4 linked regions of the Homo sapiens genome follow. The protein of the gene in region 1 interacts with the protein of each later gene in a pairwise test. Each region holds a gene or a part of one and is shown on either strand. Other genes may lie near its edges. The genes, in order: TSSK3, LHX3, PRDM6 and ATP23.

Region 1 (7,150 bases):
CTCTTGGTCATTTTTATCCTCTCTTCCCCCTGTTTGTATATGATTCTTGGGTCTATTTTAATTAACTTTAGTATGAAAATCACTTGTCATGCCAGGCGCAGTGGCTCATGCCTGTAATCCCAACATTTTGGGAGGCCAAGGTGGGTGGATCACTAAGGTCAGGAGTTCCAGACCAGCCTGGCCAACATGGTGAAACCCCATCTCTACTAAAAATACAGAAATAGCCAGGCGTGGTGGGAGGTGCCTGTAATCCCAGCTACTGGGGAGGCTGAGGCAGGAGAATCGCTTGAACCTGGGAAGCAGAGTTGCAGTGAACTGGAATCGTGCCACTGCATTCCAGCCTGGGCGACAGAGCAAGACTCTTAAAAAAAAAAAAGGAAGTCTGAATGAGGCCCTTTGATTCCATGAAGATCTCTAAAAGGAAAGAGTAGTAGTAAGGCTGGGGTAGATGTAGGTAAGTTTTAGGATAAGTAAACTTAAAGCGTAAAATATATATCACCATTTTAGAAGCGGGTTTTTGGGTTTGCTTTCTCCCCCTACTTTATTGGAGAGCACTTGCCATTGCTTTTATCAAGTGCTTGCTAGCCATGGATGCCAACTAACTTCTTCAATTGAAGGCCGGAGGATCATATCGGGTTCCAGGAGCCTCTTGAGCAGGTCCTGGCAATCGGCCGAGATGCTCAGATGAGTGGGGAAGGACACCCCCTTCTGCTGCTGCCACAGCATCTTGGGGATGTCTGTGTCGTCAAAAGGTAGGCTGGCACAGAGCATGACATACAGGACCACACCCATGCTCCAGACATCACCTTTTTTGCTATCGTGGGGAATGCCCTGCAGCACCTCGGGGGCAGCATAGGCTGTACTGCCGCAGAAGGTCTGGCTCAGCTCCCGGTGTGACTTGGGCAACACCTTGGCAAAGCCAAAGTCAGTCAGCTTCAGGTTGAAGCCCTGCAACAAGGCGTTCTCACATTTGAGGTCCCGGTGGGCCACACCACAGCCATGGCAGTAGCGGATGGCCTCAACCATCTGACGGAAGAGGGCCTTGGCCCGGCTTTCAGGCAGTGGCCCCCCATTCAGCACGCAGTCAAAGACATCCCCTCCCTCAGCGAGCTCCATCACCAGGCAGATTTTCCCGTCGGCAGACTCCAGCATCTCATACACCTGGATGATGTTCTTGTGGTCCAGGGTACGGACGATTTGGAGCTCCCGAGGGAGGAATCTCTGGATAAACTCTGAGGAAGTAAGGGGAGGAGAGATGGGCTGGCAGATCAGAAAGGCCCACCTCCTCACACCTGTCTCCTGCCTTCCAACTTCTGCCCACCTTGTCTGGGTCTTATTTCTTGGCTTTCTTAATGGTCTTAAGTGTGTCTAGCTGCTTGGACATTGCAAAGAATGTTCACTTCTATTATTTTTGTCGTTAGTATATCATTCAAAAGAAGCACTCCCCACCAGCCTTGTGGACTGTTGTGAGCAGTCTGTGAGACTGGATATCAAGGTGCTTTAGGGACTTTTAGACAAAGCCACAGAATCACAAATTATAAGGCCTGATTTGTCCACAGGGTGGTGAGCCAGCTCCTCCCGCCACTGTCCCCTGACCCCACAATTCTTTCCATGAGCCCTGTCTTCCTTTTTCCCATCTCCACGGGCCTTGGCACCAGCCCCTGTTCTCTACCAGCCCTGGTTGTGGCCTCTGCCAGTCTCTGTTCCCCTGCCGGAAAGGAAAGCCTGGCTCAGGTTTTGCCTCTGAGGATCCTTCACCTCATGCCACTTTCATCTTGCATTCTGGGGGGGTGTAATGTTCCTGGACTCCCAGAACCCCTCTGTTCCCCACTGACCCACTCCAGAGCTGCCATCGGGCTTGCTTGGTTCCAGGCCAGCGGGAGCAGGGAATGATCGAATGATCGTTCTAACAAACAGGAGGAAGCACCCACCCACCTCAGCCAGTCCTCCCTCCTTCCCTCCAAAGGGGCCCCGGCTCACCTTCTGGCCCTCCCATCTTGTCTATAACTTTAATTGCCACTTTTCTTTGGTGTTTTTTGGAAAATGCTTCTTTGACTTTTGAGTAGGTCCCTTCCCCAATGGTCTTGCCCAGCTGGTACCCATTGGAGAGCAGAAAGTCCTCCATGCTGTCTAGCGCCGCCTTCCTATCACCCTCTCAGCTCATGCTGCCTCTGAGAGGCAGCTCTACTCCACCATCGCCCTTGGCCTGCTCCTTTTCTCCCCAAGGACTTCATCCGCAGCCGCCCCCAGCGTTAGAACATTCTCTGTCTGGACACAGCGGCGGGTGGTGGGGAGGGACAGGGCCAGACATTTTTAAACTCCGGTGCAATTGTGATGTAGATGCTGTGTGACCCTTGGCCAAAATGGGCAGTGCCCCTACCTGCCCTCACTACCACCACCAAACTCAGCCCGGATTAAGTCACCGCCGAGCCCGCCCCCGTGCCAGGCATTGAGTTGTAGTCCCGCCTGGGAGGGCGCTCCGCCGCGTCTGTGTGGACCGGGAATGCGCGGCTCCTCGGCGTGGACGCCGCCTCGCGGCGGGTTGCCCTGGCCTGCTGCGCCCCCCTCGGGTGTCCGGGGTCTGCGCGACCCCGTCTCCAGGCGCCATGGCCAGAGGCCTCCAGTCCCCGATTCTGGCCCGCGCTGAGTGCCAGGGGCGGCAGGGGGCACCGTTGGGGGTTCTCCAGTGGGAGGAACGTGCTCTGTGAGGTCAGCGCGCCGCGGCCCGGGTCACAATGCTGCCCTCCTCGACGCCCGGGCCCGGGCACGCCACAGAGACCTGCCCGGCTCCGCCTGGACCGGAGCGTTCTCCCGCGGCCAGGGCTCCGGCAGCTGCTTCTAGCCTGGGACCGGTCTCAACCGCCGGGAGGTGAGCGACGGCCCAGGGGGCGGGCGCGAGGCGGCGGCGCCCGGCGACCCGGGAGAGGCCTGACCGCCACTCCCCGCGCAGAGCGCCCCGGGGCTTGGACATGAGCGCCCAGGAGCCCCCGCAGGGTCGGAGATTCCCCATTGAGGCCGGAGACTCCCGTGGCCTTGCCGCCGCCCCCGAGTCCCAGGACAGCCCGGAGGCGGTAGCGACGGAGCACAACCCGGTCAGGTAAGGCCCGCGCCCCACCCCCGCCTCCGCCCGTCCCGCGGCCCCGCCCTCCGTCCCACTTGGCGCCCCCAGCAGTCAGGACCCCGCATCCACGTCCGGACCCCCGGGGACCCCAGGTGCACTCCCTGGGTGCGCCCCACAGGATGGGCCAAGCCCCTGCCTCAGCGGCCCCTGTCGCGCGTCAATTTCCCCAGGCCGCTTCGTCGCTGCCCTGGATGCCACTGCCTGACGCTGCTGCACGTGCCCATCGACGTCTACCTCGCCATGGGCGGGAGCCCCCGGGCCCGCGCCACGTGAGTGCGCCTGCTCCCTGCGGCTCCGCGGGAGCTGGGCGGGAACGAGGCCCCCAGCGGGCCACCACGCTGAGGTCGCATGCGCCGAGCACGAGACAATGATGCACATTTTAAAATAAAAGAATGATGCACATTTTAATAAAGCACAGCACAAACTGTTCTTTCCACTCCGGGCTGGCAGTGTATGTCTATCCGTCGGGCCCACCAGCTGCTCTGCCCAGTCCAATAACACTTTCCCTTCCGCAGCCTCCTCGTTTGGACCCAGCCTTAGGGGCCCGCCCTTCCGCCTTTCAACCTACGCCACTTCACTCCTCTCGTATCTTGCTGGTCCTGACCCCTCCTGGGCAGCCTTTCCCTTGGGCCCTGCCCTGGTCCATCTCTCTAACCCTCTGGTGATTCTCCGGTGAAATTCACATCACTGTGCTGGACCCTGGCAACCCACAGAAGCGGGGAACAGGAGGAAGAGGTGGACCGACAAGTAACATAGAATACAGCCATAGGCCACCCACACCAGGCTATCTATCTATCTTATCTATCTATCATCTATCTATCTATCTATCTATCTATCTATCTATCTATCTATCTATCTATGAGATGGAGTCTCGCTCTGTTTCCCAGGCTGGACTGCAGTGGCATGATCTCTGTTCACTGCAACCTCTGCCTCCCAGGTTCAAACAATTCTCCTGCCTCAGCCTCCCAAGTAGCTGGGACTACAGGCACCCGACCAGACCCATTTTAATCCTCTCGAGCGAGAAGTTCTGCGACAAAGTTCTGCGACTTGCTCTTTGTGGCCCTAGGTGCCTGGGACCTTCCTTATTGGAAGGGTTTGGAGCTGCCCCAGTCCATCCTGAGCCTTGGTTTCTCCCAGGACTGAAGTGATCATAAAAAGATTGGGGAAGAGGCCATTTGAAAAATGGTGGCTTGCCAGGCGCGGTGGCTCACGCCTGTAATCCCAGCACTTTGGGAGACCGAGGCAGGTGGATCACAAGGTCAGGAGTTCGAGACCAGCCTGGCCAACATGGCGAAACCCCGTCTCTACTAAAAATACAAAAATTAGCTGGGTGTGGTGGTACGCACCTGTAATCCCAGCCACTCGGGAGGCTGAGGCAGGAGAATTCCTTGAACCCAGGAGGCAGAGGTTGCAGTGAGCTGAGATCATGCCACTGCACTCCAGCCTGGGCAACAGAGCAAGACTCTATCCAAAAAAAAAAAAAAAAGAGAGAGAAAGAAAGACGTTGGTTTAACTTCCTATTTTACAGATGAGTGAACTGAGCCTTTGAGACTTACCCAAGGTCCCCCAATGAGAGTCTAGCACACTCCTCAGCATCCTGAGACCACATGACCTAAGATCTGCCCTCGGAGGGGCCCATGACAGGAAGCCTGCCTGGAGGTGCTAGTATTTAAGCTAAACAACTATTTCCTACTTTCCAATTTGGCTTTAATGAGCCCGTATATTCTACTTTCCAATTTTGTTACGGGGGGAGTGTAACCTAAAGGTCAGGTTCAGTCTCCTGTCCCCTGAGATCTAAGGACAATTGATTCAACACCCTCCTCTAATCCTCATAGGGTAGAGAAGTCCAAGCTTTCCCTAGAGCACCTTAAAATTCCACGTCACCCAAAAGGGATACCCTTCTCAGTTTCCACATAAAATGCTCTCCCAGGCAGTCCCCATGTAGGAGGCTTACTAAAAGGGCCTATTTCCTCACTGGTTTAAAAAAAAAAGGCATCAGCTGGTCTCTTTGGACTCTGCCAGCCCCCAAATAGTGAATCCTTCTCATTCTTCCTTTTTTTCCATCTCTCCCACTTCCTTCTCCTCTCTTCTCAACCCTCCTTTCCTTAAAAAAAAAAAAAAAATAGGCCAGGCATGGTGGCTCAGGCCTGTAATCCCAGCACTTTGGGAGGCTGAGGCAGGAGGATCACTTGAGCCCAGGAGTTCAAGACCAGCATGGAAAACAGCAAGATCCCATCTCTAAAAACAAAACAAAACAAAAAAACCAGGTATGGTGGCGTGTGCTTGTAGTCCTAGCTACCGGGGAGCCTGAGGCAGGAAGATTGCTTGAGCCCAGGAGTTTGACGCTGCAATGAGCCAAGGTCACACCACTGCACTCCAGCCTGAGCAACAGAGTGAGATCCTGTCTCTAAAAAAAATTAGGCTGGGCATGATGGATCACGCCTATAATCCCAGCACTTTGGGAGGCCGAGGCAGGTGGATCATGAGGTCAGGAGATGAAGACCATCCTGGCTAACATGGTGAAACCCCGTCTCTACTAAAAATACAAAAAAATTAGCCAGGCGTGGTGGCGGGAACCTGTAGTCCCAGCTACTCGGGAGGCTGAGGCAGGAGAATGGTGTGAACCCAGGAGGTGGAGCTTGCAGTGAGCTGAGATCGCACCACTGCACTCCAGCCTAGGTGACAGAGTGAGACTCCATCTCAAAAAAAAAAAAAAAATTTAGAAACCAGTTACTGCCACATCCCACGTACCTGATTTGTGAGGGATACAAAGATTCTAGACGCAGTCCTTGCCAATGGGGCTAGTTAGCTCTAGAATGTCCATGAGCAAGAGAAAGGGCATTCCCTTTGGGGAGGAAGCATTGTGGGTAAAGGCCTGGAGGCAGGAAAGTGAAGGACAATTTCAAGAAACTCAGTTCATCAATTTTCATCAACACCTTCCTGGGCCATGCCTGGTACTGAGAACCCAGCCCTGAATCTGACATCATTTTCCCTTTCAGAGCATAGAATGCAGGGGATCCAGGAATGGGTTAACAGAAGAGAAGCTGGATCAAGGAGACCTTTGCGTACCAGGTGAAGGAGTTTGAACTTTGTTCTGCAGGCAGGCAGAGCACGACAGGCTCCTACCTGGGTCACTTCATTCTCCTATTTCTCTTCTCTTCCATCCTGTTCTGTTTCTTCTTACTCCTTTCCACTGGAAGAGCCACTGGCCGAAACTAGTGCTGAGTTCAAGTCCTAACTCTGCTGTTTCTCTAACTGTGCAGTCTTGAGCTAGTTACTTAGCCCCTCTGAGCCTCCATCTTCAAATCTGTTAAGTAGGGCTAATTGACACCTGGTAGAAAGTTTCAGTAAGGACCTGTATGTATAGCACCATGCAGGAATCACTGCCAAAGCTACCACTTGATAAGCAAGAGAGACTGCTACGGCTGCTGCTCCTACCTTTGGCTTCAAGGGACAGCAGACAGCCAGACAGCCAAAGACACTGTCCCCAGGGGTTGGGTGATGTCCAGCCCTGAAGAGGGCTGAGGAAACCCTCTTGCCTCTCTCTGCCAACTTCCTAGCAGTTCTGTTCAGGAGCCTAAGAACTTGGTGGGGGGATTGGGGGCAGGGGAATTTCCAAGGGAATCCCCAGGTGGAAAAGACAGAGCTGCCTCCCTCACCCTAAAGGTTACATCTGTCCCCGGACCCCAGTGCAGGACCCAATGCAGATCCCAGCCTTACTCTCTGGGCCTGAGGAATGGGGAGGGGCCAGGCAAAGGGGGATGCTCCAATCACTGCCTTCCCTGACTTATTTCCCAGACACCTTATTAGCCAGCCCCTCCCTAAGGGACCCCCTTTTAGAAGGAGGGGGCGAAGTACAGATGGACCCCCCAGGTTACCATGGAGACAGCAGGGAAAGGGTTGCTGTATCACCATGGCAATAATCGACGTCAGCGCTACCCTTTCCCATCGCTTGATATGAGAGGGGGACAGCCACCCCAACCACAAGCAAATCCCCCACAAATCCTCCTCCTCTTACTGAGCCAATCA
Region 2 (6,410 bases), on another chromosome or scaffold:
GGGGGGTTGGGGGGTGGGGACGGGGAAGCAGGGCTCAGAGGGTTCCAGCCCCCAGCCCAGGGTCACACAGCAAGTTAGAAGAGCCAGGATTGGAATCCAAGCTGGAGAGACTTCCATGACCATGAGCCTGGTCACCCTACCAGCCTATGTCCTGGGGTTGGTGCCAGCTGCAAGCTGTGAATGGCACACACGGCCCACCTCCCACCCCCATCATGCTCTCTGGACATCCCAACCCCTGCCTCTCCCAGGGACAGGGTGTGGAGACCGCAACCCCTCCCCTCCATCAGGAAGGGATGGGCTGTTCCCCCCACCTCCTTCCAGTGCTCATGAGCATGGCCAAGATCCAGGGATAAAGAGAGCCCAAATTCATACTAGGTGCCAGCCCAAGCAACGAACTAGGGGGACTCAGGGCCCCTCCAGGGCTGCCTCTCAACATTCACAGAATGTTCCCCACACCCAACACTCCCCAACCCCCGCAGCCTCAAAAAAACGCGGGCCTTCCATTGACTGTAACTGACAAATTTATTGAAGTCTTGGAAAGAGCTGATCACCCGAGAATAAATAAAAGACACAGAACATTCACAGAACCAATAGGTAGCTCGAGATTCAGGTTTGCGGGAGTGACTTTGACTTACACACAGGCCAGCCTTTGTGTCTGGGGCACGCACAGCTGCGGGCATCTCCCAGAAACTTCTTCCCAAAGGATCTGATGGAGGAGGCAGGGCAGGCTCAGAGGAGCCCCACCCTTCTCCAGCGGGGAGACTTCCCAATCTGGGGCTGGCAGAGCCGGCTCCGGCAGGGAGGGCAGGCTGTTTGGCAACAGACATCTGTGGGTGCAGCCTGGACACCAAGGGCCTGGGGTGGGGTGAGGAGGAGACCCTGAGGGGCTTAGAGAATTGAGCTTGGAGAGAAGGGGCGCCAGGCATTTTTGCCTCCTCCACAGGATACTCGAGAACAGAATGATCTAGAGACCTGGGGATTGGGGAAAGCTTCTCCCGGGGAAGGTGGGGCTGGAGGCAGAGAGGCCCCCTGTGGTCTGGGGAGAGGAGGGGGCCTCTCCCGGAGGACACAGGTGTGTCCCCGCCTCTGCAGCCTCTTGCCTCGACAGGCAAGGCCAATCTCCGACCTAAAGAGGGAGCCTCGGGGTGACGGCTCCAAGACACATGGAGCCTGGGAAGTGAAAGCACAATTATGATGATTTCTCAGTTTTAGAGATGAAAGCGTTTTTCCAGCCCTCGGGCTATGCTGGGCTGGGCTGGGCCTCAGCAAGGTGACATTTCATGTCTAGAAATAGCAGCAAGTGCTCAGTTAATTGGTCAATAAAGGGGAGAAATTTGCTTACAAAAAAGGCTGGCTTGCTGGGAGGCCACCTGGCGGGCCAGCCCTGTGTCAGAGGAGGGGCCAGGTGGGTCCCTCAGCCCCCAGAGAGGGAGCTGTGCGGTCGGCAGTGGGAGGCTCCGAAGGCACCAGCCCTCCCTTGACGCCCTGGCCCCACTTCCTCGGAAACCCCAGCAGCCCCGAGCCGCCCACCCAGGGGCAGCTCCCTCGTGTGAGGTGCAGGGTGGAGCCGGGCCTGGGTCAGAACTGAGCGTGGTCTACCTCATCCAGCCAGGAGGCGGGGCTGGCAGGGAAGTCGGGGTAACCCCCGCTGCTCCCCGTGGATAGGTCAGAACTGGGTCCGTTCCCTGCCAGCACCCTCATGGGTGGGGGCCCGCCGGGGGCTCCCGAGGGCACAAGGCCCAAGCTGGTGTCTGGGTACACCAGGCTGGAGAGGAGGGGCTGGGGGCCAGGGAGGCTCTGCGGGGCGGCGGGGGATGGGGGGACACCGTAGGGGCTGCCGGGACGCAGCTCTCGGTACTGCTCTGGGCCTGCCAGGCCTCCATGCTCCAGGGAGAAGTTGCCCAGGGCTCCCGAGGGCCGGCCCAAGGCCTGGGTGGGTTCCCCCAAGCTCCCGTAGAGGCCATTGGCCGGGCCCATTTCCGCCAAGGAAGGCTCATCTGCAACAGAAGCAGAGGCTCAGTCAGCGCCTGCCCTCCACCTGCGGCCCCTCAGAGTCCCATCCTGCAGGCGGAGGCACCCCTGGGTCGGAGAAAGAGTGGCTGCCCCACACCACATGACAGGTCATAACAGGCCCCTTCTACTGTTGGAGCATGGCTGCCCCTGCCCCTCCACTGCCCTCACCCCTGAGTCAGCCCAGGTGTCTCAGGCCTGGTGGGATCAGAGTCAGGAACAGCCCAGCCAGGGCCCAGGCTTTCAGGACCAGCCCCACAGCAGCCTAGGAAGGGGGCACAGATACCACCACCCACATTTTGCAGACAAGGATATTTAGTTCCAGAGTGGCTGAGTGAGTAGCCCGGGTCACGAGGCAGCCCAAAAGAGAGTGTCTTGTCCACATTCTGAGGATGGGCATCAACAGATGGGGACGCAGCATCCCCGGTGCCCGGAGAATGAAATAAATAATCCAGGCCCCACAGAAGGGTATGGAACCTTCTCTCCCTGACCCCAGGTAGCCCCCTCCCCCAACTCCAAGCAGCTGGGACTTCGACTCAGTCTTTCCCGAAATGCACTGCCCATTCTCCTAAAAATCACTGCAAGGGCTAGGAGCCAGAGAGACGGCCTGGACACGCCCACCCCCCCATGAGAAAGCCCGTAGGCGCCCAGCTTGGGGACAGGTCGGGCCACAGGGATTGTGTCCCCACCAGGGGAAAAGCAGTGGTCCGGAGTGGCCACCCAGGGCGGGGAGGGTGCTGGGGGAGCAGGTTCTGTAAGTGAAATGCTTTTGAAAGTAGAACTTAAGGAGTCCACTAACTCCATGGGAAATTCAGATCCGCGGGCTCCCTGGGACCCCTGCGACCCCGCCGACGCGCGCTCGTCCCCCCCCGAGCTCCGCGATCCCTCCGCCTACCGGGGAAGGAGACCTCAGCGTCGCTGTCCTGCCCCTCCTGAACGCTGTCCTTGTCCGACTTGGAGCCGCCGCGGGAGCGCTTCATGTTGCGGAAATACTGCCCCCAGCGCTGCCGGCCGGCGTCCTTCTTCAGCCTCTTCTCCTTGGCCCGGCGGTTCTGGAACCAAACCTGGGGGCGGGGCGGGGTGAGCGGCCGCCCGGCTCTGCGGGGGCCCCCAAGGCCGCGGGCGGGAGGGAAGCAGGGGCGAGCGCTGACCTGCACCACGCGCATGTCCAGGCCCGTCTCGGACGAGAGCTGCTCGCGCACGTGGCGCGCCGGCTTGGGCGAGGTGTTGTAAGCGCTCTTCAGCGTCTCCAGCTGCTTGGCGGTGATGGTCGTGCGCGGCCGCTTGGCCGTGGCCTCGGCCTCTGCGCGGCGGGCGAGCGGTGAGGCGCGGCAGCCCCTCCGGCCCCGGCCGGACCCCCAGCCCTCCCACCCCGGCCGGCGCGGGGACGTCGGGGCCTCAGGTGCCCACCCCCATCCCGCCCCACAGGCTTCTCGGAAGGCGCGGGCGCTGGGAGCGATTGGCAAAAACGGGCAGCACCCGGGCTGGGGTGGAGGGGGCGCCGGCGGAGGGCGGGTTCTGCCGCGGGGGCGGGGGCGGCGCCTTCCCTAAAATCGCACCTCCACGGCGCCCCCGCCTTCAGCCTTGGCTCCCTTCTCCAAGCACCCTGATTTCCCCGCGGGCTCCCCTTTATTCTAAGGGTGTGGGTATGGCCCAGCCTTCGCGGCCAAGAATTTAGGGCGATAATTCCGACCAGGGGCGAAAAGCCGCACACTTCGGACCGAACGAAGCGGTTCGGGACGCGGGTCTGTCCGTGACTCCGCCGTTCCCGGCCTCGGCTTCCTGCTGCCTACACCGCCCTAGCCCAGGCCCCCTTAGTGAGCGCTTGGGGAGAGAATTTCCCCGGACGCCCCCCTGGGCGTGGCCTCAGCCCCATTTTTTTCAGACCAGGAAAGGTGGGAGCGTCGTCCCCTCGGCTGACCTCGCTGCTTGGCGGTTTCGTAGTCCGCCTTGCACACGAGCCGGCTGTCCTCCATGAGGTAGAACTCGTCGCCCGTGGCCAGCTGCCGCTTGCACACGACGCAGGCAAAGCAGTGCAGGTGGTACACGAAGTCCTGGGCGCGGCGCACCACCTGCGTGGGCGGGATGCCCAGCTGGCACGCGGCGCACTTGGTCCCGAAGCGCCTGCGGGACGCACAGGGCCGGGCTCAGCGCGGAAGCGCGAGGCTCATTTCGCCCCGAGCGGGTTGGAGAGAGGCAAGCGGCTGCCTGGGAAGGCGGCCCCGGAGGAAGGCTCTGTCCGGCCCTGCAGGGTGGTCGCCAGCCTGGCCGCCGGGGCAGAGCTGCCCACTCCCACTGAGAAGGGAACCTCAATCTCAGAAAGACCTCGGGGAGCCCAGCCGCCATTGCCTGCAGGACCCATGCTGGATCTGGGAAGGTGAATCCGGAGGGAGAGGACCCATCTGGGGCCAGTCCCTCACACCCCACAGCTGGAGCCATGAAGGCCACTGGGCCAGAGCCGCTGGGTGCCAGCATTAGGAACTAAAACATCACCAATTTCGGAGGAACTAAGTCCAGTAGAATCCTACAAATAGGGGTGTATCTTCTCTAATGACTGCTTCTGTGATTTAGGTAATAAATTGCTTTTTTTTCCAAATAATACTTGCTGATGTCCCAGCCAGGCCCAGCCACCCAGGGAGCACCCATGGAGAGGCCCCACCCTTAATTTGGCCAGGCCACAGGGTGCCCTGCCTGGGTGACAGGAGTGGGCTGGGATTGCGAGAGACGCAGGCTTCGAGGGCCTGGCCTTGGTGATTGTGAGGGGAGGAGTCCCTGGGGCAGGCGTGCCCTCCGCTCCCACACTGAGGTGAGGTTTCGGGGCTCACTTGAAAAAGTCGTCCTTGCAGTAAACGCTCTCCCCTCGGCTGAAGCAGCGCTCGGCCAGTGGCGTGTGGCAGTCGCTGCACTTGAGACACTTGCTGTGCCAGTGGCGGTCCAGAGCCTTGAGGATGAAGCGGTCCAGGATGTGCTGGTCACAGCCAGCGCACAGCGGGATCTCTGTGGGCACGAGGAAGTTCTGGGTCACCTCGTAGACCAGGAGGCAGTGAAGCCACCTTCCCACCCCAACGCGAGCCAGTCTCCCCTCCGGCCCACAGGACTCAGGGCTGCCGAGGGGTCCTCCTTTCCCTACACACCCTCTTCCCCAGCCAGCTTAAGTGGCCCCGCAAGTTCCGGGAGTGTGCAGGCACCGCATCCTATGTCAGGAGCTAAGGGGAAACTGACATCGGTCTAAAAATGTGTGTGAGCAAGAAAGCAGCCCAGGCCATTTCACGAGGCTGAATACTCAATTACAAAATGTTGCCAGTGCCAAGAAGGGTGCATGTGGAGCTCAAATGAAAACCCCACCCCAGGGGGATCTGCTCTCTGAAGCCCGGCAGGAAACATAGGGAAACGGGTCTTCACCATCACCTGGAGCTGGGGCACCCCATCGGGTCTCCTTCATGTTAAGCGTCATGGCCACTCTTTCTAGGGACTCCTCGCAAATGTGGCTGCCCTGCCTGGTGGCCCTGTCTGCAGGCCTCCGGGGTAAATATCAATGCCTTCCCCATCATTGGGCAGCCGCAAAATTACTTATGAGTGGACTGGACAAGCCGATCCACTGCCTTTGTGTCAGGCGTGGGTGCCCCCAACACCGTCAGAGTTACTCAAACGTCTGGCTTCCCGCTGCTTCTGCCCCCCACACCCCACTTCGGTACTGCAGGCCCCCTGGAGGAACCACACTGGGGAGGTCCAAGGGTGCCCTGTGGGAGCCTCGAGTCTGTGAGCGGGTTTTCCAGGTGTCAAGGGCTGAGGACTCCCTCTTCACTTAGAAAAAGTCTCTGGAAGAGAGGAGTGCCCGCTGAAGGGACCGGGATTTACTGACATATTGCACCCGCCTCCCTGGCTGTGGACCCCGCCGGCTCCAGCCCATCTCCCAGTGGGTGAGAGACACCAGGAAGGGGCTCCCTCGACCTCCGGCGGAAAAAACTGGGCTGCGCCTCCCCACGCAGTGGCGGGAAACCGGCGATGAATGCGCCCCGCATCCGGCAAAACCGCAGCTCCGGGTGCGGAGCGTCGAGGACCCGCTGCGCGCCCGGGGTCCCCATCGTGGGCAGCGATCGCAGGCGAGGACCCGGCTCGGAGCGGGGCGGCCCGACAGGCCGACACAGCGCGGATTCAGCACCGCGGACCGGACAGCGCCTCGGCCGCAGCTCGCCGCCGGCGCCCGCGTCGGGCAAAAGCCGCCCCAGCCCACCCCGCGCCGCGCCCGCGACCCCAGCCTTACGCTGCATGGCGACTCCAGCCCTGGCGGGGGCTCCTGTGTCAGGGATGGCGGGGTCGGCGGAGCCTGGACGCCAGCCCGCCCGCTCCGGCCAGCTCTCCCGAGCGCGGGCGCGCAGTCCTCCTTCCTCCCTCCCTCT
Region 3 (4,557 bases), on another chromosome or scaffold:
CTTCTTGCTATTCCTACATGCTCACATATTTTTTCTAAGTGAAATTTTATTTTCCAACAGAACAAGAGACAAACAGCTGACTTTGGCTTTCTTTCTGAGAGCCCCCAATCACATACATTCAGAAGAGTCATAGCCCCAGGCCACTCTCCGGGCAAGTGCTTTCTGCTGTGCTCCAAAGCTTATGGGGTTAGAGGTCAAATATCAAGTCCAGCCTGCCACAGATTTGTGGCTGGGTCTCTGCGCACAGTTTCCTTAAGAAGCTGTGCACCTGACTTGGTTGGGCAAATGAGCATGTGAGCACATGAATAAGGAAAACAGTAATCTCAAATGCATCCGAATAAACCTCAGGGCTGAATTTTAACAACCTTCCTGCTTGCTAGGTGTATTTTCTAGCTTATACTTCCCCAACAAGAGTTTGTTGACTGCCTACTACCTAAGCTGCACACTAGAATCAGATGGTGCTTGAAAAATGACTGTGGGACTGGAAAAGACAGAATCCAAGGGAAGATCGAGTCATCATAAAAACGTTTTATTAATCAAATATATTTACATTTCTTGGTCAATGATCTCTAAATGTGTACCTGTTTTTTCATTTAAATACAACTTAATCCTGGTAGATTCCATCACAAGAATACAGCAGCATGCATGATCTCATTGGTCCTTTGCAGTTATTTTTTCATTAAATAATGTGAGTTTAATAAAGTTAGAAAACTTTATTAAGTTTTACCCATTCTTACTGTGGGATAATCATTCTTGTCATATCAGTGGCCCTTACAGCAAACTACACACTCCTTATCACCCACAGTGAGATTCTTCTCATTCTCTTAACTGACTTGTTTAAGCTTTCCAAACTCCAAAAGGCAGATGTGAAACTGGGCATTCACTCTAACCATTTTATTTGGTGGAAAGTTGGAGAGAGACATATTTCTATTCCAGTAGGGAACATTTACAGTCCTAAACTTAAAATAACCACATTAAAGAAATGTATACAATGTCCTAATAGCATCTAAATATCACACTTCTATTAGCATCCTACAGAACTGGATGTCTTCCCCTTGATATAAAAAAAATAATTAACTTGGGACATTAAGTTTCCAAAATAATTTTGCTGATCTGAGCCAAAGTTTTCCTTAATTCGTTAGTCATCACCTTAGCCTCTGCATTTAAACTGGGGGAAGGCTTTTTCATGAAATACTTAGAACTGCTAAGGAGAATAATTTTGCCTCTGGCTTTTGCTATACATTTTCTCCAGGTTGGGAGAAACTAGAGAAGTGTACTAGATTGTTCAGAGAAAGTAAGTCTACAAGTGCTGATTTTGTTAACATTAGACAATGCCCACATGTGGATCAACAGGGACTGTGGGTTGGCAGACTTTTGCTCTAAGATGGCTGCTTTCCCCAACATGTGGCAATCACCTGATACGGCATAATTGCTTTTAAACATGAAAGAGTTGTGCTGTAGAAATAGATCTCCAGCTTGTTAAAGTTTATATCTAGACTGTTTTCAGTTGGGAGTGATGTACCAAAGTGGGAGAAAGGCACCAACAAGGATGTTTTTCAAGGCAGGAAACAGGAGATATCAACCAGGACCCACCATGTTTGACAAGGAAAATATATTTATCATTTCAACAAACAAATGTGCCCATTAGAATCAGAATCTGGAGGAAAGTAGTATACATTGTGGTTTCAATAAACCACGGTAAAGAGTTGTAATAAAGCCAGTTCATGATGAAATTTTGTACACTTACTTTTTGAACAAACCTCACAGTTTCATCTAGATTGTGCCCCAGAACTTGAACTGGTTCCTTGAGTACCTCATGCATGTAACTACACTATCTGTGCCTTTGACAAACCAAACCTATAATGACTCCAGTCTTTCTGCTGCACTGCTTTAAACCAACAGGCTAACAACATAAGCCCATATTCTTAATGCACACAACTGCGTAATGACTCCATTGATGCCTGGAAAGTAACTCACTTAGCATTCAGTCAGAACAAAGAAAGAAAACGAGATTTCACTTAGCCCCGTTGAGGATGTGTTTTTACCTGTCGATAGTGTTCGAACCTTATTCTCTTCTGGCCACCCTCCAACACAACCTGCCCTTCCTGCCTGTTGCCATTTGTCCTAATGTATATCACACTTGAGAGGGTTATTTTTTTTTCTTTCAATGTGGAATTTTAGATTCCTGCTTAGAAAAACAAAAACAATGCCTGACAGCAATGGAATAGTTGAAATTCTGTCCAGCAATGAGATTTGGGCATGACAAAATCAGCATCTATAATGATACGTGTTTTAATAGCACTTCAGTATTGTTTCCACAAACACATTTTATAAATAAATTATACTTGTGTTTATTAATTTTTAAAAGCTCTTGTTCTCAAAAAAAAGCTTTACATAGAGAAGTATTTTCCTCTTTTAACAATTGCCTGTTTATGGCTTTGAAGGAGGAAAAAAACTAAAGAAGCTACAAAGCTAAAACTGTTAAGCATATATGAGAAGGGGATAATGATAGTATCTTTGTTATAGAGTTACTAAGGATTAAAAGAGATAATCCACATTAAGCATTAGAACAAGGCATGGCAGTAATTGCACAATATAATTTATAATCATCATCATTCCCATCAACCTCTGTGGGAATAAGCGCAGAATGTCCTTATTTTTCCATTAAAATTTCCTCCATAGGTTTTCTAAGTGCAGTGGTGGCATATTCAGTCTATAGGAAAGACAATTCAAATGTTTCATGACTTTGACCTGTTTCCGACATATTTTTTGTTATCGTTTTACATATTGATCTGATGAAACATCTGGCATTTATTATTTAAAGGAAGAAACTAAATAAATATTTTAAATGTCAAACACAGCCATGGACTACAGGTTAAACATCTGTGGCAAGGTTTCCACAGATAAAGCAATATTCTTTTCAGTTTGGCTCTGTCTGGCCAGTTGTACCTGACAGCTGATCTCTGGGTTTGTAGAATGCAATCTTGGGGAGGGCTGAAATAGGTGCCTTCCTAGTAACCTGCGTTGTTGTTTTGTGGTAGTTCAGATAAATGCTAGTGAGGGGAGAACTTTAAACTTTGGGTTGATGATCACCCAGGTATCTAGTTAGCGCATAAAATTTTCCAAAGCTCTTCACCTTAAAAGGATCCTGACAAGTGAATAACATTTCTGGAACTTACAGTTATCATTTAAAGAAGCATATATCTCAGTATCTTTTAAAATCTGATGTCAGGATCTAGTAAAGACTCTGGGAAATAAAAATTAAATTCATGTCAAGGAAGAAACAGATAAACATTTCAGGAAATGTGATTATTTATTTCTTATTCCTGGCCTGGTTTCTGTAGGCATGCATAGCCTTAATATGAGAGCAATGAATTTGCTCCTAAACGCAGGCTGCTGGGTACACTCAGAGGGACCCGTTAACCCTGCTGTTCTGGAAATGCCCTCTTTGTGAGACGTGCCATGATTCCCATTTTAAACAACTCAATAGATACTTGCATTTTAAATTTTAAATTAGTGCAAAACAAATAATGTTACTTCTGCACACCGGGGAAAGGGACTACACTGCCAACGCTTACCACTAATGAGGCAACTCTGACCCATTCAGGGTCGCAGATCTCCTTCCCTGAGCAACTCCAGCCTTGTACCCAACTTGTTGCCTTATCATTGAAAGGGGGGGTCATAAAAACCCAAGACCCAGGCCCTAATCCTGGTCTCTTGATACTGCTGCTAACAACCAATAGCCCAGTGAGTTAAGCAAAGACAACCAAGTTGTGCATCTTAACTTGTTTTGCAATATGCTATTTTCTGGTCCCCAGATGAATTTACCTCTCTCAGATTTTCCCAGTTGGAACAAAATCTTTAACTTCACTGAGACAATGGTCTAAAGGACTAAAATACCCATTTTACTAGCAGCCACTTAGGAGGAGAATATTATTTTATCATGAATAGTCACTTAAATAATGCTGCTTATGGTGAACACATAAAATGGGGTCTTTATATAAAATAAGAGTTCAATAAATACTTGTTGAATAAATGAATGAAACAATGAACATCTGATTTAAAAATTGATGAACTGCTAAATGTTCGTATAAATCTTTGCATACCTGAACCAGAATGAAATTTTTACAAGGTAAAATTCAATTATGAGCCCTATGAGGACACAATGATGTCATGATCTTTTCCTGTTATACATAGTTTCCCAAGAAGGCTACATTTAAATGAACACAATAAAAAATGTACCAACTGAATCAAATTATATAAATTATATGAGATTAAGTTTCATAGCTTTAATTAGCCATACAATAACTTTTTAGAAGTATATCTCCTCCAAAAAAGTCATTTTTAAAGATAAAAACAAAACAAAAATGAAAAGCTTATCTATGAAAAATGTATGCACATATCCTGGGGAAAATACAACTTTGCCTTGGGATATTGAGATTTTTCTAGAAATGCAAAGGTCTGCAGCTCCATCTCTCATCCTATTGCACCCTGACTTTTCCCTGGCATTACCTTTCGTCTTAGACTCTGCTAAATAAAGGAACATACGCTAGGATG
Region 4 (7,763 bases), on another chromosome or scaffold:
TCCAGGAGAGGTCTGTAGAGTATCTGGCCAGCAATAGCACAGAGGTTTCCCTGTAAGGGGACGGGGAGGCCTAGACGATTCCTGAGGGCCCTTCCACATCTAAGACTCTATGGGCCCGTGACTACTACAGGAAAGTACAAGGAGCCCAAATGCCTCTGATATTAACTTTTCACATAGGCATCTTGTCTGAGAATATAAATGCACAGCCAATTATATGATGTAACCCAAAAAAAGTGAAAAAGAAACTAAGGTTTAAAAAAAATGTTGAAGGCAAAAATAGGTGAGAAAAAGAAATGTGAGATGAGAAAGTCAGGTATAGGTTACTGCTTTACCAACCTGCCCCTTGCAAGAGTGTTCACAGTAGAATAATTATTGTTAACAATACGTATTATTGAGTGAATACCAGGTAGCAGGCACCATATTAAGCACATTATTATTCATGCAACTAGGAGAATTTTACAAAATTAAAACAGTTTCAAAAGTCTGTAGTCCTTGTACTTAAAAAAAAAAAAAACCATGGTTTAGTACTTCAAAAAGGACCTGCAGCAATATTTAGAATAAAATTGCTTTGGTGAAAAAAAAAAAAAAAAAAGAGACTCCCATGAGGTCTGGTTTCCACCACCACGCCCCACCCAGGGATAGCATTTTAAAGCTGCAGGTTGACACTTTAATACCACCAAAAGACCCTCCCAGCCACCCTGCCCTTGGAAGATCAAGGTCCATTGATTCCTACTGGGGCTCATGTTCAGCACCCCACCTTCCTCACATCCTATCTATTTCCACTCTTCCTCCACTGTGTGGCCCTTCCACTGTAAAAACAGCTACCATTTATTCAGCTCAGCTCCTGATATGCTGGTACTTTACATTCATAAAATCAGTACTTTTTTTTTTTTTAGACAGGGTCTCGCTCTGTTGCCCAGGCTGGAGTGCAGTGATGCAATAACAGCTCACTGCAGCCTCAGCCTCCTGGGTTCAAGCAAATCTCCTGCCTCAGCCTCCTAAATAGTTGGGACTGCAGGCATGAGCCACCACATCCAGCTAATTTTTTTTATTTTTTGTAGAGACAGGGTCTCCCTATATTACCCAGGCTGGTCTTAAACATCTGAGCTCAAGCAATCCCCCTGCCTTGGCTCCCCAAAGTGCTGAGATTACAGGCATGAGCCACCGTACCCAGCCCCATAAAATCTATTCTTCACAACAACCCTAAAAAAGGTATTTTCCCCTTCTCTTTTTTTACAATAAGGATAGTGAGGATCAGAGAAGTTAAGTCACCTTCCACACCTGAGGAAAGGGATCCGCATTTGAACCCACATCTAACTCTGCAACCCATACTCTTTCCACTCTATTCCACTTTGAAGCACCTTCAAGGCAGGGTGCTAACTCATCTTTCTACTTCCCCCACCAGAACCTGGGAGGCACTCAATACATATTTGTACAGTAAATACAATATCATCATTCTCTCCCCTTTTACCCTCAACTCCCCTTCCTCCTCCTACCTCCCTGAGTCTCTACAAGCAGGTAATCCCAAGAAGGTTGGAAAATCTTTCGGTGGTTGACTTTTGAACTGTGACTGACTAGCTATGAAATAGTAACCTTGCTTTGGGACAAGTATGTTTAAGACTAATTTTCTGAATGTATCTGAAAGTAAACTTAAGAAGTCTATGTCAATGTAAAGGAATTAAGAAATCTTCTCTAGTGCAATGTCTCTGGGACGGGAGAGAAATTTGTCAATGGGCAGTTGTGTCCCTGTTTAACCCACAGCAGTTCTTAACCTTTGTGGGGTCGTTGGCCTCTTTGAGAATATGATGAAGCTATTAACTCTCTCCCCCGACCAAAAAAAAATACACTTTGGGCCGGGCGCAGTGACTCACGCCTGTAATCCCAGCACTTTGGGAGGCCGAGGCAGGCAGATCACGAGGTCAGGAGATCAAGACCATCCTGGCTAACACGGTGAAAACCCGTCTCTACTAAAAATACAAAAAATTAGCAGGGTGTGGTGGCGAGCGCCTGTAGTCCCAGCTACTCGGGAGGCTGAGGCAGGAGAACGGCGTGAACCCAGTAGGCGGAGCTTGCAGTGAGCAAAGATCGCGCCACTGCACCCCAGCCTGGGCGACAGAGCGAGACTCCGTCTCAAAAAAAAAAAAAAAATGCACTTAGGGGCACACACACACACATACACACGATTTCACAGACCATTTCAGGGATTTCTACGCTCTGAAGCCCATTCATGCATGAACCACTTCCAAGGAACGGTAGGTTTGCAAAACTGCTTTTATATTTTTACAGCCTTGGTATGCCTTAATTACATTTTTACATTTTTACAGCCTTTGTGTGCCTTAATTAACCTGGCTGGCACTTTAAAACTTGGCCTCACCCTTACCCTGAAGTCACAGTGTGGCTGCATAACTTATGTAAGAAATCGGAGGATCTGTCACAACAGTGAGTGACAAAAAAGGGCAGACAAATTCATTCCACAAGCCAAAAACAGCGACGAAAAGGGTCTCAGCGCCACCTCTAGTGGGGAAACTGAGCCTCAGGCTCCCAACCCAGCCCCCATGATGCCCAGTCTGTCTAGACTCTGTGCTGAACCTGAAGCCCCTGGCCAGGTGTTGCCCAGGCCCTTCCTCGCCCACCCGGTCTCAGACCCATTCTGTGGAACCACAGCCTCCAGGTCATGGCTCCTACTTGTCTCCAGCGTCTTCAGGAGCCTAAGCTGGCACTTCTGGTTGCTGGTGAAGAAGCTGGAGAAGAACCCTTGCTGGGGATTCCCCTGGGCCAGACGCTCGGGGAAGACCTGGCAAGAGACGTGTTGCTGCTGCAGCTGCTCCCCTGCCGCGGGGCCCCGCCGGCGCTCGTCCGGAGCTCCCGCCATGCCTCCCGCAGACCTCGCCGCTGCTTCCTCCTGGCTCAGGCGGCCAGAGCGAGACTGGGAAAGGTAACCTCCCTCCCGCCAACGCGACCGCCCAGGCCCTCCCTCCGCAGGGAAGAAGGGCAGCCTGGCTGGGCTGAAGACGTTAGGCGGGAGGGGGCTTTGAACCTGACGGGGAGCGCGGGAGGCGGGGCGAGAGGCGAGGGGCGGGGCGAGAGGCGAGGGGCGGGGCGAGGGATGAGGGGCGGGGCGAGGGCATGGGGCGGGGCGCGGGGCCCGATGCTGTTGGGCGGAGCTGGGTCTTGCGACTTCCCTCAAAGGCTGTAACAACCCGGCTGCCGCGGATTTCGCTGCTGCCCTCCCAGTGTGGGTGACATGTCTTTATAAGCGTTGTTCTGCAGCTTCCTGCTGCCTGCTGAGCTCTAAGGGTGTCCCGCCTCCTCGCAGACACTCCTTCCTCACCTCGGGGCGAATATTGGCCACTAACTGCTCTTGTGCCGCCGAAGGTCTCGGCCATCCTCCCACTCCCTGCCTTCTTCCGGGGCAAGCCAGTTGTCATTTCTGGCCCGCCACTTTCCCGACCCCTGCCATCCCTCAGATCCACTCTGCCCAAAGATGCCTCTGGCCATATTGAAAGCAGTGTTTTTCAGAAACGTTTTAAAACTATAAAGAATGACTAGTCACATCAAAATCCTCAAAATGTAGGAACCAACTACATTTTTTCTTCCCACCTGTACCCATTCGTTTACCCTACTCTTCTGCCCCACCCCCCACCAATAACTCCCTGATAACAAAGCGCACCCTGTTTACTTCTACCTCTCAGCCTTAACTCATACTGTCATTTCCATCTTTAAGCTCCTTGCCTCAGCCCCTATGATTGGGGCCCAGGTCAAATCTGCCTACTCCACAGGGCATTCCCAGATACCTTAATCAAAATTAATGTCTCCTGATCTCCCAATGTACAAAGCACTTTGTACCTGTTAATCATTTTCATCGTAGCCTGCCAGGTTTTATCCAATTTGTGTGTTTCTCTTTTCCTACTAAATTATTCCACTCAGCTCACACATTTATTCAGCACCTACTATGATGGGCCAGGCAAGGTGTAAGAGACTGAGGAAACACATGACTAAGAAAATTGCTAAAGATGAAGAGCAGCATGTGGTTTATGTAAGAAACATATCTGAAAAATATAGGCTCAGCAGGCCTTTAGGGTTATGAACAGTGCTTTATGTGTCATAGATGCTCAATATCTAAATTGAGTGGGATGCTAGGATAGTCATTCATCTGGAATATTATAAAAATACAAACAACTCCTATGTACATAGACTATTAAAGCCAGAAGTCAAAAAAAAAGTAACTACTTTTTAATTAAATTCACCTTGGATACATTATTTCCAATCCTCACTACAACCCTGCAAAGTAAGTATTATCTCTAATTTGCAGATAAAGTGGGCTCAGCAAAATTCAATAATTTATCTAGGACCACACAACTAGCTTTCAATCCAGTTATTGAACTAAAACACACATATGGAAAACTAAGCCATTACAATTCAGTGTGATTAGTTTGGAATACTGAAGGCAGGCTAGATATGCCTAGAAATGGACCATAGCCTATATACATTTGAAATACTATTTGGATTTTTTTCATGCTTTCTTTTTTAATACATAGATTCAGGTGGTTTATGTGTAGGTTTATTATACAGATATATTGTGTAGTGGTGAGGTCTGGGCTTCTAGTGTACCCATCACCCAAACAGTGAACATTGTACCCAATAGTTAATTTTTCAACCCTCACCCTTCCCCTCCCACTCTCCCCACTTTTGGAGTCCCCAGTGTCTATTATTCCCCTCTGTATGTCCACGTGCACTCAGTCTTTAGCTTCCACTTATAAGTGAGAACATGGGGTGTTTGATTTTCTGCTTCTGAGTTATTTCACTTAGGATAATGGCCCCCAGCTCCATCCATGTTGCTGCAAAAGACATGATTTCATTATTTTTATGGCTGCATAGTATTCCGTGGTGTATGCATAACCACATTTTCTTTAACCATCTGTTGGTGGACACTTAGGTTAATGGTTGATTCTATGTCTTTGTCTTTTTGTCATAACAATTTCTTCTTTTTTTTTTCTTTTTCAGAGACAGGTTCTTGCTCTGTCACCCAGGCTGGAGTGCAGTGGCGTAATCATAGCTCACCACAGCCTTGAATTCTTGGGCTTAAGCAATCCTACCACCTCAGTCTCTCGAGTAGCTAGAACTACTGGCATGCACCATCATGTCTGGTTAACTTTTTAATTTTTTGTAGAGATGGAGGTTTTTTGCTATATTGCTCAGGCTGGTCTCAAACTCCTGGCATCAAGTGATCCTCCTGCCTCAGCCTCCCAAAGCTCTAGGATTACAAGCATGAGCCACCACACCCAGTCACAATTTGTTTTCCTTTGGGTAGCCAGTAGTGAGATTGCTGGGTCAAATGGTAGTTCTATTTTTAGTTCTTTGAGAAATCTCCATACTAGTTTCCACAGAGGTTGTACTAATTTACATTCCCACCAACAGTGTATAGGCAATCTCTTTTTTCTGAATTCTCATCAATATCGGGTTGTTTTTTGACTTTTTAATAATAGTCATTCTGACTGGTGCAAGATGGTATCTCACCGTGGTTTTAATCTGCATTTCTCTGATGATTAGTGATGTTGAGAAGTTTATCATGTTTATTAGCCACTTGTATGTCTTCTTTTGAGAAATGTCTATTCCTGTCTTTTGCCCACTTTTGAATAGGGTTATTTAGTTTTTTCTGGTTGAGTTCCTTGTAGATTCTGGATATTAGTCCTTTGTTGGATGCACAGTTTGTAAATATGTTCTTCCATTCTGTAGGTTATTTGATTCTTTATCTTACTATGCAGAAGCTTTTTAGCTTAATGAAACTCATTTGTCTGTTTTTGTTTTTGTTGCATTTGCTTTTGAGGACTTGCTCATAAATTATTTGCCTAGGTCAATCTCCACAAGAGTTTTTCCTAGGTTTTCTTCTAGGGTTTTTATTGTTTCAGGTCTTAAATTTAACTCTAATTCATCTTGAGTTAATTTTGGTATATGGTGAAAGAAAGGGGTGCAGTTTCATTCCTCTGCATGTCTATCCACTTTGTGTAGCACCATTTATTAAATAGAGTGTCTTTTCCCATTATATGTTTTTGTTGTCATTGTCTAAGATCAGTTGGTTGTAGGTATGTGGCTTTATTTCTGGATACTATTTGCAATACCCTTCAGCTACAGGAATAAGTAAAAACGTACAAACCAAAAGCTGCAACATTTCCTTACTAAATTAGCTAAAACTGTTTCAATACTCATTGTTGAAGAAACAGATGGAAAAAAATTCATACCACAGTATCAATGGTTGTCTAGGTATTGGAATTTTTTTGTTACATTCTCCTGAAATTTTCTAATGTTCCTCAATAAGCATGTATTACCTTTATAATCAGAAAAATAAACTTTAAAAAATCAAGTGGGCTTTGGATGCCATGTGTAACTTCATCTGTATACAGTATAAAGACATAGGTATGGAATAAAAACACATTAAGGAAGAGATAATGAACAGCAAATACAAATGAGTTTTAAAAAGAAAAAGAATTACCACAAAGAAATTAGAGCAAGGGCAAAGATTTAGCTATAAGGATTTTCATTTCTCCATTGCAGCACTAATTGAGAGCAAAAATGGCCAGGCCAGTGGCATGTAATCATAGCTATTTGGGAGGCTAAGGCAGGAGGACTGCCTGAGCCCAGAAGTTCAAGACCAGCCTGTGTGATACAGCAAGACACCTCCTCCTCAAAAAAAAGGGGCGGCAGGGGAAGACATCAATTGTTTAAATATCCAACAAGAGGTATAATGGAATATATACAACCATGTTAAGTGTCTTTTTTAAACAAAATATGTTCATTAAAAGTTTTTGGGTGTTTTGTTTTGTTTTTTTGTTTTTTTGTTTTTTGAGCCAGAGTCTTGCTCTGTCGCCCAGGCTGGAGTGCAGTGGCGCCATCCCGGCTCACTGCAACCTCTGCCTCCTGGGTTCAAGCAATTCTCCTGCCTCAGTGAGCTGGGATCGCGCCACTGCACTCCAGCCTGGGCGACAGAGCAAGACAACAGCTCAAAAAAAAAAAAAATTCAGGCTGGGCGCGGGTGGCTCATGCCTGTAATCCCAGCACTTTGGGAGACCGAGGAAGGCAGATCACTTGGGATGAGGAGTTCGAGACCAGCCTGACCAACATGGTGAAACCTCATCTCTACTAAAAATACAAAAATTAGCTGGGTGTGGTGGCGCCGCCTATAATCCCAAGCTACTCAGGAGACTGAGGCAGGAGAATTGCTTGAGCCCAGGTGGTGGAGAGGTTGCAGTAAGCCGAGATCGGGCCACTACACTGCAGCCTGGGCAACACAGTAACTTTGTCTCAAAAAAAAAAAAGTTTTTTAAGTTCCAAACTAGCATATACAGTATGATTCCATTTTGAATTTGTACTTACTATAATTCATAGAAAGGGTCTGGAAGACTCCTACAAAGTATTCACATTGGTTGTCCTTAAATGGGTAGGATTTGGAGGTTTTGTGTTTTGGGGGTTTTTTTGGCCTTCATTTTCTAAAGCAAAAATAATTGCTTTTTTAATGGGAACTAAATTATTTAAAATTGTATAAATCTATCACAGTAACAAATAAATTACATATAATTGTAAAGAGTTTACCACCTGTCAGCTGTGAAAGTTGATCATATAAATCGGGTCACTTTTGTCATACCAGTTAAAGAGTGGAGAGGCCAGAGGGAAAAAACATTCAGGTCACAAATATCACTTGAAAAATATAATTCTCTACAGGCCTGGCTGCTGAAACTGCCTGCTAACACTTAAAACCAATTTAATCT

The links.
Region 2: the proteins of TSSK3 (region 1) and LHX3 interact in binary tests that used the Homo sapiens proteins (3 or more experiments, as listed by UniProt).
Region 3: the proteins of TSSK3 (region 1) and PRDM6 interact in binary tests that used the Homo sapiens proteins (3 or more experiments, as listed by UniProt).
Region 4: the proteins of TSSK3 (region 1) and ATP23 interact in binary tests that used the Homo sapiens proteins (3 or more experiments, as listed by UniProt).

Annotation. Positions count from the first base shown.
Region 1 is NC_000001.11:32,357,677-32,364,826, reverse strand, and holds TSSK3 (testis-specific serine/threonine-protein kinase 3), read right to left. Parts: upstream 2,289-7,150; 5' UTR 2,126-2,288; coding exon 1,981-2,125; intron 1,233-1,980; coding exon 571-1,232; 3' UTR 515-570; downstream 1-514. Other genes in the region: protein FAM229A, read left to right, coding at 2,736-2,869, 2,951-3,097, 3,292-3,394. UniProt on the Homo sapiens protein: Serine/threonine protein kinase required for spermatid development and male fertility.
Region 2 is NC_000009.12:136,195,747-136,202,156, forward strand, and holds the end of LHX3 (LIM/homeobox protein Lhx3), read right to left. Parts: intron 6,282-6,410; coding exon of another isoform or gene 6,275-6,281; intron 5,929-6,274; exon of another isoform or gene 5,465-5,928; coding exon of another isoform or gene 5,419-5,464; intron 5,008-5,418; coding exon 4,836-5,007; intron 4,135-4,835; coding exon 3,932-4,134; intron 3,314-3,931; coding exon 3,162-3,313; intron 3,075-3,161; coding exon 2,906-3,074; intron 1,998-2,905; coding exon 1,579-1,997; 3' UTR 504-1,578; downstream 1-503. UniProt on the Homo sapiens protein: Transcription factor.
Region 3 is NC_000005.10:123,190,218-123,194,774, reverse strand, and holds the end of PRDM6 (putative histone-lysine N-methyltransferase PRDM6), read right to left. Parts: 3' UTR 509-4,557; downstream 1-508. UniProt on the Homo sapiens protein: Putative histone methyltransferase that acts as a transcriptional repressor of smooth muscle gene expression.
Region 4 is NC_000012.12:57,936,811-57,944,573, reverse strand, and holds the start of ATP23 (mitochondrial inner membrane protease ATP23 homolog), read right to left. Parts: upstream 3,008-7,763; 5' UTR 2,873-3,007; coding exon 2,686-2,872; exon of another isoform or gene 2,677-2,685; coding exon of another isoform or gene 2,646-2,676; intron 1-2,645.